Linked DNA regions of Homo sapiens: region 1 is linked to region 2. The links come from fine-mapping of genetic effects on gene expression. A gene starts in region 2. The other region holds a variant in brackets. All regions are shown on one strand. Distances are from middle to middle.

What was found. PIP is the estimated chance that this variant, and not a neighbour inherited with it, causes the effect.
Region 1: its variant is fine-mapped to the expression of PARP6 in tibial nerve (GTEx, PIP 0.96).

Annotation. Positions count from the first base shown.
Region 1 is chr15:72,242,000-72,253,024 of GRCh38, forward strand. It overlaps PARP6 (poly(ADP-ribose) polymerase family member 6), which reads right to left. Exons shown (of 24, transcript NM_001323532.2): 17 at 9,208-9,256; 18 at 8,846-8,955; 19 at 8,021-8,093; 20 at 7,246-7,315; 21 at 621-700; 22 at 158-221. Among named protein-coding and RNA genes, the nearest start is that of PKM, 16 kb to the left of the region's middle. The variant C/G (reference allele first, on the strand shown) is at 6,049.
Region 2 is chr15:72,266,704-72,277,728 of GRCh38, forward strand. It overlaps PARP6 (poly(ADP-ribose) polymerase family member 6), which reads right to left and starts at 5,851. Exons shown (of 24, transcript NM_001323532.2): 1 at 5,690-5,851; 2 at 4,320-4,584; 3 at 772-968; 4 at 42-119. The coding sequence starts at 774. RefSeq lists a silencer at 5,594-6,013 and enhancers at 6,154-6,203, 6,264-6,353.

The DNA.
Region 1 (11,025 bases), 25 kb before region 2:
GCCAGAAATCATAGATACAATGCTTAAGGCACAGAGTCCAGGCAGGAGAAGGAAGCCATGCCACTTCAACATCACTCTTGGCCAGATCATGTGCCAAAATTACATCAGAAACAAAGGTTAGAGACCCAGAAAAACAGGACATGGGCAAGCTACCTACCTTCACAAAGTGCTATACAGTTTAGATTCCGACTCTGCAGGAACCGTGACTGAATGGATCGGGTCTGGAAGAGAAGGAGGCAAAGGAGACCAGAGCCAGGTAGATGGGTACAGCTTTCCCTAGAGAGGCTGGTTAGCTGATGATTGGGAGTGGGGATCAGAGATATCCTGGGCTCCCAGCAACACCCCTCGCCGCCCAGAAAATTCTTCTTTCCCATAATCAGTCTGGATAGGGTCACAGCTTCCATCTTTACATTTTCATCTAAACTCAGCCTCTGCTTTTATACTCATGACTTCAGCTACATATGACTCCAGACGTGTGTTCACTTTAGAACATACCTGACTCCTTTAAATGATCTCAAATCACTCCCCAACCCATTCTCACCCCACTGTTTCCCTGTCCAGCTCTGGAGCCTAAATTAGCCCCAGGGAAAGGTCCTGCCTCATTAGAATAGTTCCAATACCTGGGGGATGGTATTCATCCTGTTGTATCTCTGGACCAGCTCATCCTTGGAGGGCATCCTGTGCTGTCCTTTTCCCATTCCTGTCACAGAACAATACACCCACTTCATTTATCAAAAATTTACGAAAGTGCCTACTATGTCCCAGCACTGAGCTAGATGCTCATCAAAACAGCAGAGAATAAAACAAAGAAGATTATTTTCCCCCACAGAATTTAGTCTGCTGGAAATTACAAGCAAGAACAAGTAATTAACAACACAGCATGGTAAGGGGTTGTGATGCAGATTATAGAGCATGGTGTGAGCCTAGAGGAGGGCAACTAGCCTAGCCTAAGAGTTTAAAGAAGTCATGTGGTGACAGCTAGACTGAGAACTGCAGGATTAGGAAGAGTTAATTAAATAAACAGCGGGGAAGTGTCTGGGAAGAAGTAATAGGATACAGAAGGCCTGAAGGAAAGATAAGGTAGTGTGTGTTAGTTGCATAGAGAATAGTGAATTGCAGAGGAGTGGTGAGAAATGATGTAGAAGAGGCAAGCTAGGATCAGATCAAGCCGGCTTTGCAGGCCATGTTAAGGCAACTAAAGTCTATCCTCAGAACATTAGGGAACCACTGCAGGGTTCTAAGATAGGGGAGCAGCACATGAAATCAGCCAGGAATGAGGGGCCCAGGAGAGTGGGACATCAATACCTTGGTGTCAAGTGCCTGGATGAGTAAAATGAATGGAAAGGAAGCAAGCAGAACAAGTCAGATTTGCTCTAGTCTCAAAGTTACATTAAAAACCTGACCAGTCATTCAAGAGAAAAGCATCAGCAGTTAAGTGATGAATAATTTTGTACAGGAAATCACAATGGCAACTAACTTGAAGAATCCTACTTCAAACAGTCTTCCCAGGCTTGAGAAAGAAGTGCCCATTCCTTCTAGTTTCCACATTATCTAAATCCATAAACTCTCTACCTTCCTTACCCGTTTATAACATTTATAGACTCAACTTGGACTTTTCTTATTTAGATATGAAAATGTGCTTGTGTGCTCCCACTCCTCACTCTTTTTGGTTTGAGGATAGGACGTTAAGTCTCTGTACTCAGCTTTATCATAGGCCCAATCTTACCACAGTTAGGGATAAAAATGTCTACCCATGTGTGGACACACGTGCCTGTGTGTGTCCACCAGGGAGAGAGATGAAGATGGAGATGATGCTATCATTATAGGTCATAAGCACTCTCACCACTCTACCCTGGAACTTTCTATTACTATTAACTCCACTCTGATCAGTTCTTGGTTTTCTCATAGCCATGGTGTAGAAATAGACTGATAGCTGTTGAACTGACATTCTTCACTGCTCAGGCTGTCAATTCATCATGCATTTACACTCAAGTCTCGTGACAGATTTAGGTAGGGCCTGAACAAAACTCAGGACACCAAGAGCCTCAAGGCTTGAATTGCCCATTTCTTCCTTTTACAGGACAGGTACTCATAACCCCTGTTTTCACCTTCCCCATTAGCCTTAACTAGGTTCAGCTCTCCACCCAAACATCATGACCTTCTCTCAAACTGGGTATGTCAGTGACAAAAAGTAAAATTCCCATTCAGGTTATACTCCAGAGGAGGCACATAAAAGATAATAAAGAACAATCTGATTTCTCTGGCAGGTCTTAGAGATGGCCCTTATGATATAACCCAAATCTTGTCCCAACTCAATCCTGTTGTACACTATCCTTTCCACACTGATCCAATGATTGTCCATTTCCTGAGCCCAGAACCTGAGATCATGGTGGCTAGAATAATCCCTAGATGTTCTGTGTCCAGAGTATGCACTTATCAGAAGTCCCTAAACAAGACTAAACAAACAGATGGAGTATATCACCTCCTTTTTCACTGTCCCCTATTTCAACCTGAACTTTATAGCCAAGTCACTGGAACTAGATATATGAACGCTATTTACACCAACCCTCACTTCCAGAGGGCACTCAATGCCATTAGGCTAAAGATAGTGTGAGAAAGAAAAAACAGAAAACCAGAGCAGAATAGCGTAGAAGAAAACATACAAGACAGTTGGTCAAATGCTGGAGTAACTACAGTAAGTGGAACATTTGCACACATTTCCCCCAACATCCCATTATACATACTCACATATCTATAGGGCCCTCAGAGACCCGTCATTCAAGCAAGGCCTACTCTGTCAGTCTAATATAGTGTATTAGTCCATTTTCACACTACTGATAAAGACATACCCAAGACTTGGTAATTTATACAGGAAAAAGGGTTTAATGGACTTACAGTTCCACATGGCTGGGGAGGCCTCACAATCATGGTGGAAGGCAAGGAGGAGCAAGTCACATCTTAAATGGATGGTGGCAGCCAAAGAGAGAGCTTGTGCAGCAAAACTCCCCCTTATAGAACTATCAGATCTCATGAGACTTATTCACTATGACAAGAACAGCACTGGAAAAACCTGCCCCCATGGGCCAGGCACAGTGGCTCACACCTATAATCCCAGCACTTTGGGAGGCCAAGGCAGGCGGATCACGAGGTCAGGAGATCGAGACCATCCTGGCTAACATGGTGAAACCCCACTTCTACTAAAAATACAAAAAAATCAGCTGGGCGTGGTGGTGGGCGCCTGTAGTCCCAGCTACTCGGGAGGCTGAGGCAGGAGAATGGCGTGAACCCGGGAGGTAGAGCTTGCAGTGAGCTGAGACCGCGCCACTGCACTCCAGCCTGGGCGATAGAGTGAGACTCTGTCTCAAAAAACAAAACAAAACAAAACAAAAACAAATAAAAACCTGCCCCCATGATTCAGTTACCTCCCGCTGGGTCCCTTCCACAACACATGGGAATTCAAGATGAGATCTGGGTGGAGACACAGCCAAACCGTATCATATAGTGATAACAACAATGGCCTAGAAATTAGGAGACCTGGATTGCAGCCCTATCTCTGCTACTCATAGCTGTGTGACCATAAGAAAATCATTTAACTTTTCTGTATATCAGCTTTCTTATCTGTAAAGTAATAAGGGATTAAATTAGATGATCTCTAACTCCAATAGTAAAATTCAACTGCATTTTGTATCTATAATCAATTACCCTTTGAGAGAGGGAGATGAAAGGTGTCTATGATATCTTTATGTAATCGGTTAAGTGATGAAGAAAGACGAGAGGTCAACAGAGATTTCTGGCTTCATCTGGTAACTAAAGGTATTTAGGCACTTGGTAGTAAACAAAGGCCAGGGGGAGAAAAGAGAAAGAAAGGGAGGGCATAGGGAGAAAACAGAAAAGAAGAATCTCAGTGGGCACCAAGAACCATGAGAATCTCACTACTCGGAAAGACAAAAGAACTTAATCAGAGGGATGCTTAGGCTGAGACAAAGATAAAAAGTGAAGAATCCAGACAAATCAAAAAGACTATTCCAACCCTAACCCCACTTTGGATGCCAGGCACACAGAGTAAGATTCACTCATATATTCAATAAATATGTGTTGGTCACTTGCCCTGTGTGGATTAATCATAATCTTTGTTTCATAACACATTATTGTTTTGTTTTGTTTTTTTGAGACGGAGTCTCACTCTGTTGCCCAGGCTAGAGTGCAGTGGCACGATCTCAGCTCACTGCAACCTCCGCCTCCCAGGTTCAAGTGATTCTTCTGCCTCAGCCTCCCGAGTAGCTGGGACTACAGATGTTTGCCACCATGTCCAGCTAATTTTTCTATTTTTAGTAGAGACAGGGTTTCACCATGTTGGTCAGGCTGGTCTCGAACTCCCAACCTCGTGATCCACCTGCTTTGGCCTCCCAAAGTGCTGGGATTACAGGTGTGAGCCACCATGCCCAGCCTCATTATTATTTTTTAATAAGACAATGAATACCCAGAGACCCAATCAAAGAACTAAATTCTAAACCTAAAACATTACCAGTGACTTACATCTAACTATATGCCTCCCTTTGGAGGTAATCACTATCCTGCAATTTGAGTTATTATTCTTTTGTTTTTTCTTTTTCCTTTAGTTTTCACACACACACACATAATACACATATATATGCCTAAACAATGTTTAATTTTGTTTGCTTTTGAACAATATAAAAAAGGCATCACAGTCTCACTCTGTCTTCTGGGACTTCCCTCTTCTTATTGAACATATTTATTATTATTTTTTTTTTTGAGATGGAGTCTTGCTCTGTTACCCAGGCTGGAGTGCAATGGCGCAGTCTCACCTCACTGCAACCTCCGCCTCCCAGATTCAAACGATTCTCCTGCCTCAGCCTCCTGAGTATCTAGGATTACAGGCATGTGCCACCACGCCTGGCTAATTTTCTTTGTATTTTTAGTAGAGATGGGGCTTCTCCCTGTTGGTCAGGCTGGTCTCAAACTCCCAACCTCAGGTGATCTCCCTGCCTTGGCCTCCCAAAGTGCTGGGATTACAGGCGTGAGCCACTGCGCCCAGCCAAAAAGTACACTTTTATTACTAATCTTTTGTGGTTATATGTGCTGCAAATGTCTTCTGTCGGTTTGTAGCCTGTCTCTTCACTTTCTTTAGGGTGTCTTCTGAAGAATATAAGTTTTAAATTTTTTTTCTTTTTTGAGACAGGGTCTCGCTCTACTGCCCAAGCTGGAGTGCAGTGACATGATCATGGCTCACTGCAGCTTCAACCTCCTGGGCTCAGTGATCTTCCTGCCTCAGCCTCCTGACCAGCTAGGACTTACAGGCACGCACTGCCAGACCTGGTTATTTTTATTTTTTTGCAGAGATGGGGTATTGCCATGTTGCCCAGGCTGGTCTTGAACTCCTGAGCTCAAGCAATCATCCCACGTCAGCCTCCCAGTGTTGGGATTACAGGTGTGAGCCACTGTGCCCAGCCAGAAGTTTTTAATTTTAATATAGTCAAATTTATCAATCTTTTATGATTTGTAATTCCATTTTTTCTATTCTCTGGAAGACTTTAGATAAAACTAAAATAATTTGTTCCTTGAAAGTTTAAGATTAATTTGTAAAACCATCTGGGCTTGGTGAGGTTTATTTTGTGTGTGGAAATTTTTACACAATTTCTATTTCTTTTATAGTATTATGATTATACAGGCTATTTCTTGTCAGATTTGTTATCTTTTTCTAGAAATTTATCCATTTTATCAAAGTTTTTAAATTATTAGCATAGTGTAGGTAACTCTCTTATTACTTTTTATTTTTTTTTTAGGCAGAGTCTTGCTTTGTTGTCTAGGCTGGAGTGCACTGGTTTGATCTTGGCTGACTGCAGCCTCTGCCTCCTGGGTTCAAGCGATTCTCCTGCCTCAGCCTCTCGAGTAGGTGCATGCCACCATGCCTGGCTAATTTTTCTATTTTTAGTAGAGACAGGATTTCACCATGTTGGCCAGGCTGGTCTTGAACTCCTGACCTCAAGTGATCTGCCCACATCAGCCTCCCAAAGTACTGGGATTACA[C/G]GTGTGAGCCACCGTGCCCCGCCTTATTACCTTTTTAAATTCTGCTTATCTATAGTTGTACTGCTTTTTTTGGTCATTATATTATTTAATTGTGTCCTTTTTCTCTTAATCTAACCAGGGTTTATCTGTTCTGTTAGTTCTTTGAAATCATCTTTGGACTTTTTTGGTACTATCTATTGTACCTATTTTTATTTCACAGGTGTTAGTTCTTACCTGTATTATCTCCTTTTTTCTATTTTGTTTGGTTTATTCTGTTGTTAGAGATGTTTTTAGGCCTCTGATTCTGGCACTTTCTTTTTTCTTTTTTTTTTTGAGACGGGGTCTCCCTCTGTCAACCAGGCTGGTGTGCAGTGGTGCAATCTCAGCTCACTGCAACCTCCGCCTCCCGGGTTCAAGCGATTCTCCTGCCTCAGCCTCCTGATGGCACTACATTTTCTGATCTTTGTAACAGTTACAAATTACTACAGGATATCAAGTAATAATCTATTAAGAATCTAGCACAATCCCCTTCATGTAGTGAACATGCAACTACATGGTGACTATACCTTGTACAGAGACTACATCAAACAAGCACAAAAGCAGACTGAAAATGAACTAAGACATAAGCCAGGAAGACTGAGAGAACTCTAAATCAGATTTCCTTTTCTGAGCTTGACTCATCTCCTGATTAGAATCTGGACCTCATCTTTAGAATAAAATGCTTTATCTTGCATTCAATGTGACTAACATAATAGTGTAAGATTATAGACAGTTTAAATTTTAAAAGATGGTTGAGAGAGAGAACAGTGTCTCTAGAAATATAAGCCAATGGAAAGGACGCAAGCCTTCAGGCCTTCAGATGTTTTCACATGTAAACTTACATGTACAAGTATACACAAACACAATCTATAATTGCCAACACCAAACGTGTTCTACAAAAAGCCTTGTTATGTCCCTGTTATTCCTCCACCCATTCCCAGGGCCAAGCCCCTGCTATGAATAAAACCATCATTTTTAACAATAACTGGCCTCACCTTGTAAAGAATCTAAATTTCTAATAAGAAAATGTAGAGAGAGAGAGAATATGTATCCATGATCGGGGAGAGAGCTGACACAGACCAAGTATCCATAATGAGGGAGGAACAGACAGCACAAATCATGTATTCACAAATGGAGGCAATGTAAATAGAGTCAAGGTGGCCACAGAATATTTCTTACCTGAGTATCCAAAGGAAATACTGGAGATGGGGCTCAGGTAGATGCCTTTGCCATAGGCTGCTCCATGCAGCTTGCAGGGAAACACCAGGATGAGTAATATGAGCCTGGGCCCTCCCATGGCTATTTATTAGGCAGCAGCAAGGCTTATCCAGCCCTCTGTCCCTCCTTCTACCTTCTCATTCAAGTAACCCTAAGCACCTATTCTCGGAAAGCCAACTGGCTGAAAAGTGGATGCAGGTTAACCTGCTTGCCTATGAAGTGCTACATACTGACACATTCGAGAGTGGGAAATGGTAGAACCACTGAGTCAGTCCCTCAGCATTCATTTTCCTGTCTCCAGGCCTTGGTACATATGCAGATTCCAAAAAAGAGGAACTACAGAACGGGTAGCCAGAAGGAGGGCCAATACACACTCCCTGGAGTCTCTCAGGGCATAGAAAAAGTCTCCCATATCTACTCCTTGAATGAATAGCCACATAAATTGAAAAGCTCTAATAGATTAATTCATCACAGTGGCTACAATCAGCAATTCCATATTCCTGCTTACAGGTACATTCCCATTCCCCAAACCACCAAAAAAACGCAGACTGAGATCAAATACACAACAGCCACGTTCTCTATTCATACAGTTCTAACTTCCTCTCTAGGGAACTCCACAAGACAGGTTAGGCTTGAGGACACTGAGGCAAAAACAGCTTACTCTAGAGCAGCCTTCCACAAAACTGAGTAGGGAAGGGAGCGGTTAGAAATAAAGGAGAAAGGGGCACAGCCTCACCTGCAGTTTGGTGTAGGATGCATTGACCAGCCCATTGCGCAGGATCGAATGCCAGTTCTCAATGTGGGACCCACTGTAAGGCAGGGTAGAATACATGTCTCCTTATGATATGAGGTTCCCAGGAACACTCCCAAGACTGCCATTCCCACCCATTCTCACCCACACAGGACATGAAGATGGACAGGTACACCTAGTGATGGACATGCACATGGATACAGTCACAGGCATGCAAGATGTGTGTGTGTGGTTAAACTCTACGTCTCTATTTCCAGTCCCATCCTCTCTTCGGTGCTTCAGCTACTCCCATCCTAAATCCTCAACTGCTGGTTCAGTATTTTTATTTGCCCATTATCCTGACATTTCAAATTCAATAAATTCATCTGAAAATCAACAAATTTATCACTGACCCCAAATATGGCTTCCAGTTCTGACTTCATGTTCTATTTTAAGAAAAGGGTACTACCACTCCCTATAAGTTCTCTTTAATACCTCTCTTTCTCTTTCCCTCCTCTCAAAATTAGGCATAAATTGTGGATTTTTCCATCAAAGTAGCTTTCAGATCTGTTCTCTCCAATCTATTTCTTCAGCCACATCTTTTCACATGTAAATGTCATTTTTCCTCAACTACATCATAAATAGTTTGAGAATAAAGACCACATTATATGTACCTTTTTGTCCTCTATAGCACCTACCACAATAGCATTTAGTAAGTATCTGCTGACTGGTTGATGGACACATGTAACACAAACTCATATCTCAAGGGCATCCTTCTTGCTCATCCCCGCCCCCTCACCACCCCCACTGCCCAGCCCCCAGCCTCCTCACTGGAAGGCAAAGGTGCTGCCATAGAGCTTCTTGGCGGTCCGGAACCGAGCCTCCTTGGCAGGAGGGCTGCTCAGCAGGAGGAACTGGTGTGAGGTGTGCATGAACTTCAGCTGCTGCCCAGGGTGGGGGTGGAATCAGGAAAACAGAGCAGAAATCGAGATCAGGGAGGGAAGGGTTGGGGATAGGGGAAAAAATCAGGCTTGCATTAACCCCACACAAGGGAAATATGCTAAGGCCCAAAGACTAAGTTGATGGACAGAGCAATGTAGGCAGATCTAGGACCAATATGGTTAGCTGGCTTCCAGCCCCTCCCTGCCCCTCACCAGAAATTTAAAGCATTTAGAGGGAGAATGGTCACTTACCCTGCTGAGAGGTAGTTTGACAATGTGTGACCTGTTGCTAGAGATGATCCTGGGAAGAAACAGAAAAAAATAAAAAGGATAGAATAATTATGTATTTAAGCTATCCTTTCTGAACAAGCCAGTCTTCCTCTGCCTTTGGGAGAATAAACAAGGATTCCTGGGCTGTCCAAATTGTGTGAAATGTCAAGGTCACTATCTGGATATTCCTGTGGGTGATAGTGCTTATGAATAAAAAGGTAAAAAGGAAGGTAGTGACCAGACACAAGCTAATTATTGGGGAGTTAAACAATGGATGAAAAAAAAAAAGGGGTGGGAGGAGTGCTGCTACAAGTAGGGAGTAAAAAGGGTAGAACAAAAGGAAGAGCACAGAGGTCACCTACAAAAAAAGAAAAGAAAAAACAGCAAGAGGTCTGAATTAGAATGGTGACAACTTATACCTGGGATTTAGACTCAGATTCAGACCTGGGCTCAGAAGCCATCCTTCCTTAGCTTAAGAGAAAACATGAAAGCTCTCAGGAATGGGGAGAAACGGAGAGAAAGTTACTGTCTAGGCTGGAAAAAGAAACAGAAGAAACTAGAATGAACTTCCTTAGGAGTCAAGGACAGACTAAGCTCTATACAGGCTGAACACAGAAGATAGAAGAGAACAGACATAAAACACTGAGGGCTCAGCAAGAGAGCACTATCTCCCATGTGGATACAGTTTGCTGTTGTCTTTGTTTTTTGTGCCTCATCTATGTACCTGTGATGCCACCTCAGATGGTCTATGCCTGGTTATTCCTCAGGCTAAGAGGGAGAAAGCTGTTGCACTGAGGAAGTACTGAAGGCTGACTAGGAAGAGGGAGGCAAACTAAAAAGGGAAAGCTATGTCAGGAAAACAATAGAAATTGAGATCAGGAATGGATGGCAGCAGGGACAGTCAAAATCTTGGCTAGGAGAAGAGCACAGCAATAGTGCCTCAAGGCTCTGGACATTCTATATCATCAAGGAGGCCCAGAGACAGGGCAAGGGGATAGCAGGAGGAGACAGACGTCTCTGGATGCAAAGAAAACTTAGTTGAAATTAACAGTGTTAATTTCTACATGCAAAGGACACAAAAACCTATTGGTGGTGACTATAGTTAGTAACAATGTGTAATATTCTTCAAAATCACTGTGGTAGATTTTAAGTGTTCTCGCCACAAAAAATACATACGCGAGATAATGCATATGCTTATTAGCTCTACTGAACCATTCTGCAATGTACACATATTTCAAAACATCATGTTGTACACAATACATGTAATTTTTTTTTTTTGAGACGGAGTTTCGCTCTTGTTGCCCAGGCTGGAGTGTAATGGAGCAATCTCAGCTCACGGCAACCTCCGCCTCCCGGGTTCAAGCGATTCTCCTGCCTCAGCCTCCCGAGTAGCTGGGACTACAGGCATGGGCCACCATGCCCAGCTGATTTTGTATTTTTAGTAGAAATGGGGTTTCTCCATGTTGGTCAGGCTGGTCTCGAACTCCCAACCTCAGGTGATCCGCCCGCCTCGGCCTCCCAAAGTATTGGGATCACAGGTGTGAGCCACTGCACCCGGCCCTGTAATTTCTATCTGTCAATTTAAAAAATAAATTAACAAACCAAAAAAGAAAACAAACAACAAAACCTATTGCGAAACATGGAACACCTAAAGAGAACTTGAAAAATCATGTCAGCTGCACATCGTGGCTCACAGCTGTAATCCCAGCACTTTGGGAAGCCAATCAGGAGGATCACTTGAGCCCAAGAGTTCAAGACTGGCTTGGGCAACATAGGGAGACTCCATCTCTATTAAAAAAA
Region 2 (11,025 bases):
TAGACCATCCAACACGGGGGTCTTGGGAGATGTAACCTCACCTGAACGCCATAGAGAAATTCCTCTGATTCATTATCTCCCTCCGAGTCGTCATCATTCCAGAACTGGCCTTTGATGTCCTAGTGGTGAGAAATAAGGATATCATGCTTTGTTAGGTCCCTATTATCCCATGGAAAGGCGTGGGATGATATGGTGAGGAACAGATTCCCACAAAGATTGGGAAATATAGAATAACTGAAGCCCTGATCCCTTTACACCTTTCATGTCACCCTTTGTGAGAGTCTCAGTCTCTTCCTGATATGATCATATCCATAAACTAGCTCTTAGTGGGACAGAGGAAAACATCTAGGGAATTTTGGCCTTCTGAAGTCTCAGTATGATGACTGAGAGGCTCTGGTAGCCAGTAGGAAAGAAATGCAAATGACTTCAATGTCAAGGTTGACTCCTAAGCATATCTGGGTTCCAGTACAAGCTGGCCTCTTCCAGGATCATTACCTAAGACAGTTCCCAAGCACACCTAAACTCTCTTGTCTCATTATTTTCTTTCTATCCTTTAAAGTACTTAACTCTCCTCTCCCTCCCCAAGAAAACCCACTACACAAACACACCAAGTAATACTGTTTCTGTGCCCCTTCCCTTTCCTTTAACTTCAAATAGCCACTCTATCTTCCAAAAGGGTAGAAGGGAAAATACCAAGAAAGGGTGAGATCTGCACTTTGTCTCCTCTACCCTTTGAACAATCAGTTGGAGAGGTGGGCAGTCAGTTCTCACCATTGGGTCAGTGGGTCACACACACTCTCAGGTCAGTGCTAGGCAGCACCCCTCCATACCACTAGCCGAACCAAGGCCAACGAGATGGGCATTTAGGAGACCACAAAGGGAGACAAGGTAGGGCACGATGTCAGGGACAACTGGTGATCTGTTGGGGATGGCAGGCTCTGCTGTTGCGGTGGTAACAAGTCACTGTCCTGTGGAAAGTAGATAATAATGGGTTTCATCACCACTTAATAGCTGGGTGGTGTATATATACAGGCACACGTATTTATCAATACACTTTTTTTTTTTGAGACAGAGTTTCGCTCTTGTCGCCCAGGCTGGAGTGCAATGGCGCGATCTTGGCTCACTGCAACCTCCGCCTCCTGGGTTCAAGTAATTCTCATGCCTCAGCCTCCCAAGTAGCTGGAATTACAGGTGCCTGCTGCCACGCCCAGCTAATTTTAATATTTTCAGTAGAGATGGGGTTTCACCACATTGGCCAGGCTGGTCTCGAACTCCCGACTTCAGGTGACCTACCGGCCTCGGCCTCCCAAATTGCTGGGAATACAGGCGTGAGCCATTGCACCTGGCTATTAATACACTTTTATTATACATACAGATACTTGCATATAAAAAGACATGCTTGCGTGCATATACATGCACACTTGCACATGCAGTTCTTTATAGATAATGAAACACAAAAGCACTATATGCAAGATACTGCTGTTCTACTTAAACTGGAGAGCTGGGATTAGAGCAAGATCCTGCTCTAGCTCATAATGTTACAACTCCTAAAGCCAAAAGTGATGGTGGCAGGACAAGATGCTTATGTTTACTCTGTCAGTTAATTCTTCAGAGTACCAACTCACACCAGAGTTAAGATTCAGAATCGGATTATTTCTGGACTCTTTATTCTTAGTTATTTCTCCATATTAGCCAGTATCTCTCTTTAAACATCAGTATTACTAGCTATTATACGGCAACAATAGCTAACTTAAAAAGTCCTCAACGGCCAGATCACCTGAGGTCAGGAGTTCAAGACCAGCCTGACCAATGGGGTGAAACCCCGTCTCTACCAAAAATACAAACTTAGCTGGGTGTGGTGGCGTGCGCTTACGATCCCAGCTACTCAGGAGGCTGAGGCAGGAGAATCGCTTGAATCCGGGAGGCGGAGATTGCAGTGAGCCTAGATCACGCCACTGCACTCCAGCCTGGACAGTAAGAGCAAAAACTCCATCTCAAAATAAAAAGTCCTCAACAACACTGAACATCTTTTGGCAGTTATGGTCTCAGTTGTCATTGCCAAAATAATGCCCTAAAGTCATCTTGGAACCTGCTTCCCAAAGAAAAATGCAATAATTATCCCAAAAATTGCTTAGAAAAACTTTTACTTAACCCAGAGCCCTTTCATACACAATTCCCTGCTCGCTTCTAATCCCACAGACTCCTAATCCTATACCAGCAACTTTTAGCTCCATTAAAACCTCCACATATAGCAGAAAAACAAAACAAAACAAAAAACTCATCTGTGAAATTATGAAGGCTTTAATGGCTGAAGATGGCAAATCTACCCTAAAAGCAGGCTAAAAAAGCTTTCTGTTGCTCTCTAGACCAGCAAGTCACTGGCTTTGCACACATCGCAGCTGAAGCTACTCCAACCTCAAACAGAGGTGTTCTTGGTCTCTAACACAGTTCTTCTTCTTCTTCTTTTTTTGTTTTCTGACAGAGTTTCGCTGTGTCGCCCAGGCTGGAGTGCAATGGTGCGATCTCGGCTCACTGCAACCTCTGCCTCCCGGGTTCAAGCAATTCTCCTGTCTCAGCCTCCCACGTAGCTGGGATTATAGGCGCCCGCCACCATGCCCAGCTAATTTTTGTATTTTTAGTAGAGACGGGGTTTCACCAGGTTGGCCAGGCTGGTCTCGAACTCCTGACCTCAGGTGATCCACCCGCCTCGGCCTCCCAAAGTGTTGGGATTACAGATGTGAGCCACTGTGCCTGGCAGGTCTCTAATACAGTTCTACTGAATGTCAGGTTTCCAGATTAGTGATTCTCTGACTGGGGTTGGTGGACCTACAGCATCAGTATCATCTAGGAACTTGTTAGAAATGCAAATTCTCAGACTCCTCCTAAGACCTACTGAATTAGAAACTCCAGAAATGGCCAGGCACTGAGGCTCATGCCTGTAATCCTAGCACTTTGTGAGGCCCAGGTGGGCAGGACACCTGAGGTCAGGAGTTCGAGACCAGCATGGCCAACATGGTGAAACTCCTTCTCCACTAAAATAAAAACATTAGCAAGGCATGGTGGTGCACGCCTGTAATCCCAGCTACTCAGGAGGCTGAGGCAGGAGAATCACTTGACCTACGGAGGCAGAGGTTGCAGTGAGCCAAGACTGCGCCATTGCACTCCAGCCTGGGGGGCAACAGCAAAACTCTGTCTCAAAAAAAAAAAAAAAAAAAGAAAAAGAAAAAAAGAAATTCCAGAAATTGGACCCAGTAATCTGTGTTTTAACACACGCTCCAAGTTGTTCTGATGCATAAAATTTGAGAACCACTGTTCTAGTTCTAGATCCTTGTGTGTTCTAAGGACCTGTGGTTCATTCCTTAGATACCAACTTAAGTCTGGTAACTAAGCCAGGATGGGGACAAAAGACACCATGCCAGAGCAGAGCCAGCATAGGAGTCTTCCAGCTCATAGTGTTGCCTGATCCTTCAGAAACAACATGCAAACGGAAAGTATAACTAAAGTTCTTAGAGATGGAATGACCCGATTACTGAGATTTGTTTAAAATACTACCCTGGCACACACATAAAAAAAGGAGGGAGGATAACAGATGAAATAAATACAGCAAATAGCAAAATGTTGATTACTGGTGAAGCTATGTGACGTACATGATGGTTTTCTGGTAATCCCTACCTCCCTACTTTTGTGTAAAGTTGAAAAGTTTCAAAATAAAAAGTTTAAAAAAAAAATCAGAAGCTACTCTAATGGGCTGTCCTCAAAGTCAAGTCTAAATGTTAACAGGAAGATTAACCAACACTCCACAATTGCCTCATTACTGTTCTTCAAACTCATCAAGCATATTCCCACTATAGGGCCTTCATCTTCCCACCATATTCCCAAGCATATTCCCGCCATAGAGCCTTTGTCCCTGCTGTTCCCCTTTCTTGGAATGCTTTCCACCCAGATATCCACATGGCTTGTTCCTTCACTCTTCCAGATCTCTGCTCAAAGGCCACCTTGACCATCCTATTTATTAAAACAGAAACAACTCAACACCCACACACTAGCACTCTCTATCTCCCTTCCCAGCTTTATTTTTTTCCACTTACCATGTTCTAACATATAAAATGTTTATCAGAATGTAACCTCTGGTGGCAGAGGCTTTGACTGCTTTCAGTCTACATTCTTAGTCCCTTAACACATTTCTTGAATGAGAGAATAAATGAATGAACCCTCTGCTGGATACTTAAGTCAAATGGGAGATATATACAATAACCTGCATGTTTCTACACATAGACAAAAATCACACAAAAAAATGATTTTAAAAAGCAAAACTTCACCTTCAAGAGCAGCTGAGATCCAGAATGTGAAGATCTTGGGGTGAGGTTCGTGAGATTTGAAAATAAACAGTCAAGTGCTGATCTGGATGATCACAGAGGAATAAAGAGGGAGGCACTAAATGTCCAGCCTGGGTTGCCCTGGGGTGAGGGGTAGGATGACGGCAGCGTTAGGCCAGAAGTGCCAACTTTTCACGGTCTTTGTTGCTGCAGAAGTCAAGAAAAATTTAGCCTCTTTCCAAGGGCTGTTGCTGCTTGGTTTCTGTTGCTATCACAAGGAGAAAAAGGTATTTCAGAGGGAGTTTTTCTTGTTCAAGCAAGAGACAGTTCAGAGATTACCGGCTTTTTCAAACCAGGCTGCTTTAGTGAAAGGGACTTGCTTCCTCTACTCTCAATGCCCTTTCCTCTGGAGAGATGGAAAGTGGATTTAAAAGGTGAAGAGTTGGAAAAGGAAGGTGGTGGGTTATGGAATTCACAGGATCACAAACACTTTTTAAAAAATTAGCCGGAAACGTGGCCTAATTCAAAGCTTTCATGTTACACACAGAATACTTAGACCTACAGAGGTCGACCAATTTGCTTAAGGTTAGGAGTACAGAAGGACTGGGATGTAAAGACATTGGACAGGTCCTAATTACATCTAATCTTCATGTGATGTGGTTATAATTAATTGAGTTGTTAATGAAGTAAGCAAGAAAGACCTATCTGATTTATCTAAATGAGGTAAAGAATGGGCCCTTTCAAAAGAAGTTGGGCCAAAAATAGACTATATGATGAGTGTCCAGAGAAGGTGTTAAAACTCAGCGGCTAATATAGAACGCTTTATGAGTTTCCACGAGAATAAGTCAAATGTAAATGAGCCTCAAGTCTGGATCACAAAGGTCTTTCCCTAGGTCCATGGGCGCTTCTCTAGGTGTGACAACTTCACGTCTAGTCAAAGCAGCTTCAGAGCTCAATGTTTAAATTGTGGGTTGGGCTCCCGGCTTTGTGGTCCTGGAGGAGGTTACTCCACTCCATCCCGTGTGCTCCCTTCTCAGGAGTAGGCCACTAAACAAAGACTACTAGGAAGAATCACTGAGGGGCGACTCCCGCAGGTTAGCGCTATCTCGGGCACCCCGCAGGGAGAGAGGACACGGCTGCCCCGCGAAAACACTCTCTGGCACCCGTGCTTCCAGGACAGGCCCTGAGGCCTCTCCCGGGGAAGCAGTTACACCTGTTCTCCGGGGCTCCCCTGAAGACCCCAAAAACACCCAACACCTGCCTCCCCAGGAAAGACGCTCTGGGCCCGATCTATGCCGCCCGGCCGCCGGGCCTGAGTGAAGCCTGTCCAGCCTAGGAGGGGCCCTCAGAACCTCCCGGTCCAAGCCTCTCACTTCGTCCACCCCTGCGGAGACGGGGCGAGCCCCGCACCCTTCCCGTGGCCCGGCCGCACCGCCCTGTGCCCGTGGTGGCGGCCACACAGGCCAGCCTGGCGAGTACTCACGGCGACCCCGGGCCGCGCGCGGCCGCAGCCGACGGGACGAGCGGCCCGGGACGCCCCGCGGGGGCGGAGCGGCAGGCCAAGGGGCGGGGGCCGGGCCTGGCGGGCGAGGTCGCGCACCCCACGCCTCGTCGTTCCGTCACGGGCGCGCTCAGCCACTCTGCGCACGCTCGCGCGGTGACACGATGGCACGTGGCCCGCTCCTGACCAACAGCCTGACGGCCTGCTCCTGGGCGCGCCTCAGCAGCCGACGCCAGCCTTGAGACGCCTGCGCGGCGGTCGCTAGTCGGGAAAGGGTGCGGAGTGGGGGGTGGCGCCTGCGCCGTGGGTAGGGGAGGCAGTGGAGAAGGAAGAGGGACTCTGGGGGAGTGCGGGGAGCCTTCCAAAGGAGAATACTTGCATTTAGCGCCCCGAGTGGTTGGGAGGAACAAGCAGGAAGGGCAACCCAGGTTGCCTGTAGGCCGGGAGGGAGTCCCCTCGCCGGAGGTTGGGGCCGGCAGGTAGAGACTGAGGGAAGTCCTGAGGCCTTGCTGACTGCAGGATTCTCTGGTTCGACAATGGAAGTCGAACACCTCGGGCTTTTAAAAATTCTGGCATTTAACTCATTTGTTCCCCGGTAGCTGCAGCGTGATGGAGAGCACCCTGGCCTTCTAGTCAATCTGGGTCTGAAGCTTGGGTTCGGCACTTATTGATGGTGCAGCCTTAAGCGATGACTTTCACTTTGTGAATCTGATTTCTCCTCTTTGAGGTGGAGACAGTAATATGTGTTTCACGGAGCCGTTGTGGTGAGGATGAACTGAGATAGTGTTAGGTTGAACCGTAGGAAATTGCTATTTTTGCAGTTTATAAACAGTCAGATACCTTCAATTTCATACGATTCCAACTAATCCATGTAAAGTAACCAGCAGAGTACTTGGGACTAGGAAGTAGTTCATACATGGAAGCTGTAATTGTGGTTATTGTGGTTATTAACCCTAGACATGGCCAGATCTCCTTCATCCTTATTAGTCTTGGGGCTTCCACGTGACCCTCTTTTCCATCAACACTAATGGGAAAAGGCTTATCTTAGACCTACTCTGTTTCCTCACTCCCTCTTTGTAGCTGGACACAGTACACACAAAGAAGGCTTTGGCCCTGAATGATATAAACACGTCATGTCTATCCCTCCTAAGCTGGCCTCAGAAGTTTCCCAGTTAACTTTTTGTTGTTGGTTGATTTACATTTGCACATTCTCAGCCTCTCCTTTCTAACTCCTTCCCCTTTTGATGTCCCCCTCTGCTCACCTTGCCACTCAGCCTGGGCCACAACACCGTCTCGGTGTGAGTTTGTTACATCTACTGCTTATAGTAACTGAAAAAAGTGAGGGATCAATATAACCTCGGTTTCAGAGTGCGGAAGTTCAGAGTGGTAGGGGAAGGAGTCAGGCCTGCTCTCTAAAACAACTCACCATCAAGGGCCCCGTAATAGCTTTTGAGAACCAAGTATGTATGGGAGTGTTTGAACATAAGCACTGTGCCCATGAGTGACAAGTCCAACTCCAGTATTCAATAACCTTTAGGATTCCCCCTTTCCAGCATACCACCACTAGCTCTTCTATTCATCATGAATCTCAGCCACCTCATAGTTTACCAGTATCTTCCAGGCTTCACCTCTTTTCCTACCCAGTCCACATCCTTGGTCAGTCATTTTAATCACATCTTTGTTAATATGCTTGCACTTACTCTGTAAAAATCACACTCCTGGGTCATGCCAGCTATCTACCTTCTCTACTCTCCCATCCTAAACCAGGATAAAGGAAGTCATCCAATCCTGCACACTTAAGCTTGTGAGTGGACACCATTTAGGTTAGTCTAGCCCATGAACCCTATTCTGTGGGAATTATCGTTTCCACACCCACACTATGGATCCACAGGCCCCAGGGCCATGTTCGTCTTGTGTGACCTCTAGCACTTTAGCTGCAGTTTATTGAACTGTGAGTGGATTCCTGGTCTAAGCTGTGTTAAACAGATGTTCTCCTGAAAATCTGGGATTAGAGCTGACAGATTATGATTCTAACTGGACTGGTTTCTTAAGCAAAAGAGACATAGACTTAGGAGCTATGGTACATCTACCTCCCACCTACTATGATGAATGAGAAAAGGAAAAAGACCATCTGGGGACACAGAATGAAGCATGGAGAGGCAGAGACCAGAAATGGTGAGACTACTCTCTGCTTTCTGGCAGCTTCCCAGGCACCCCTCCCTTCCTTCCTTCTTTTTTTTTTTTTTTTTTTTTTGAGACAGGGTCTCACTGTGTTACTCAGGCTGGAGTACAGTGGTGTGATCATAGCTTACTGCAGCCTCCAAGGCTTAAGCATGCACTAACATATCTGGCTAATTAATTTTTTTTTGCAGAGATGGGGTCTCCCTATGTTGCCCAGGCTGATCTTGAACTCCTGGGCCCAAGCAGTCCTCCATCTTGTCCTCCCAAAGTACTGGGATTACAGGTGTGAGCCACTATACCCTGCCCAAGGCACTTTCTGAGGCCCTCTGATCTTGAGGGACTAGGAGTCAGTTTTTATCTAGAATAAATGGCTTAAGCTAACTTAATGTGCACTCAGTACAGAGCTCCTACAAATTCATTGTCTCCTCAGCAGAGTCCTCAGTGTACCCAGCAACCCTTCCCATGTCAGCCTCTCCCACCATCCCCCATTCTGCTTCACAGAAAAAATAAAGGCTCTGGGTGCCAGGTACTTGGGTGGCTGAGGCAGGAGGATCTCTGGAGCCCAGGAGTTCAAGGCTACAGTGAACTGTGGTTATGCCACTGCACTCCAGCCTCAGCAATGGAGCGAGACTCCCCATCTCTTTAAAAATAAATAAATAAATAAAAGGCCACGGGGGAACTGCCTCAATTTTCTGTCCCCTCCAAACATTTGAATCTCTCCCATCCTTTCTGTTTCAGAAGTGGAGAGGGCTCTCTTCAAATACAAAGTTAGTCCTTTCACTGTGATCTGTATTTCATTCCTTTTTGCCTCCTTGGGAAATTTGCTCCTTACCTCTCTCTTTCATTTATATTCAACTTTTTCCTCTCCCCTACTCGTTGATCTCAGTATATAAGCTTGATCAACTAGCCCAACCGTAAAAAGAAAATCCAATTTGAATCCTATATGCCATGCTACTGATTTTTCTTGCCTTTAACCAAACTTCTAGGAGTAGCCTATACTCCCCCTCTCCACTTTCTTGTCTTCAGTTGTTCCTTAAATCTGGTGTCATCTGACCTCTCCCCAAAATTTCTACTGAAAATACTTTCACCAAAGTGACACATGACTTACAAATGGACAAATCCATTGGGAATTTTCAGGCTTCATTTATATGACCACACAGTGTCATTTGGCATTGTCAATCATCTTGCCCCTGCAGTTGACTGCATGGTGTCATTTGGCATTGTCAATCATCTTGCCCCTGCAGTTGACTGCATGGTGTCATTTGGCATTGTCAATCATCTTGCCCCTGCAGTTGACTGCATGGTGTCATTTGGCATTGTCAATCATCTTGCCCCTGCAGTTGACTGCATGGTGTCATTTGGCATTGTCAATCATCTTGCCCCTGCAGTTGACTGCATGGTGTCATTTGGCATTGTTGATCATCCTGCCCCTGCAACCCTTTCCTCTGTTGGCTCTTATGGGCTACACTCTTCCAGTTTCTTGCTACACCTCATATGACTCCTTCACAGTATCCTTATTATACTCCCTTTCCTTCATTCCCTACTTAAGTAGAAAAGCAGTTCAGCCCACATCCATTTCTCCTATTACTCTTCCCTGTGGCCTCCATGGCCACTTGAAGGAGATCTTGATAATTTGGGGTTGCCCAGAAACAGAATCTCCTTCTTATGTTACAAGTTTTAGAAGTAAGCAGAGCCTATCTTTCATGACAGACACTAAAAAGGTTGAATCTTTGCTTTCCCAGCTCTCTAGCTAAGACAGAGGCATGTGACCTTGGCCTGGCCAAGCATCTTCCAGAAATGTAGTTTCTGGAGTGACTCAGAGAAATAGAATCATAGAGAATTCATGCCAGTGGCAATGGTGACAGGAGAGCAGGGTCAGCTTTACCCCATGCCCAGGGACTTTCATGGTGTGGGTACTGGTAGTGGTGACATCCCATGTCCAATAATGATGACAGCAGCAGTGGTCTTGTGGAGCTGGTTCTGGCATCTGAATTTGGCCTGTGCTGTGGTGGACTGGCCTCTCATTGTTCCTGCCTATTTTCCAAGCTTGGGTCTTTTGCCTGGCAATCCCGTGACCCACCTAGTGCCCTTTCAACAAAAGTCTCATTTAAATCCACCTGAGTGACACACAGTTATAGACTGGAACTCCCAAATCTATATTTCCATCCTGTACTTCTTCTTCTTTTTTTTTTTTTTTTGACGGAGTCTCGCTCTGTTGCCAGGCTGGAGTGTGGTGGCGTGATCTTGGCTCACTGCAACCTCTGCCTCCCAGGTTCAAGCGATTCTCCTGCCTCAGCCTCCTGAGTAGCTGAGACTACAGATGCACGCCACCACGCCTGGCTAATTTTTGTATTTTTAGTAGAGACGGGGTTTCACCACATTGGCCAGGATGGTCTCAATCTCTTGACCTTGTGATCCACCCACCTCGGCCTCCCAAAGTGCTGGGATTACAGGCGTGAGCCACCGCGCCTGGCTTCCATCCTGTACTTCTTGAGTTTCAAGTTAACTTTGGTCAAGTTGTCTTTTGGACAGCTCCACTTGGATGTCACATAGGCAAACATCTTCTCACTGTATTTCTTTCATGTTCCTAACTTAGTAAATCTCACCTATGACTTATTCAGACTGAACCCTGAGAAGAAAGCATCTTAGACTTCTCCCATCCTTATTTAAATGGAACCAATTTTACCTCATAAACTCTAAATTTTACATCTTAATACATCTTCTTCTTCTTTTTCTTTCTTTCCAAACTCTGGCCTCCTGCCCTCTAGCTGCCTAAAAGCACAGAGACTCAGAAGGCAGAACAGGCCACACGCCTGGGTCTGGCTTTTCCCAAGGGATATCTTAGGTGCTGAGCAGAAAATGCAAGAAACTAAAAAGCCTGTGGAATGAGCCTCAGCCTCCTGGGGAGTAGTAGACAGGGTCTCAATATGTGGCCCAGGCTGGTCTCAAACTCCTGGCCTAAAGTTATCCTCCCACCTCGACCTCCCAAAGTGCTAGGATTACAAGTGCGAGCAAATTAATACATCT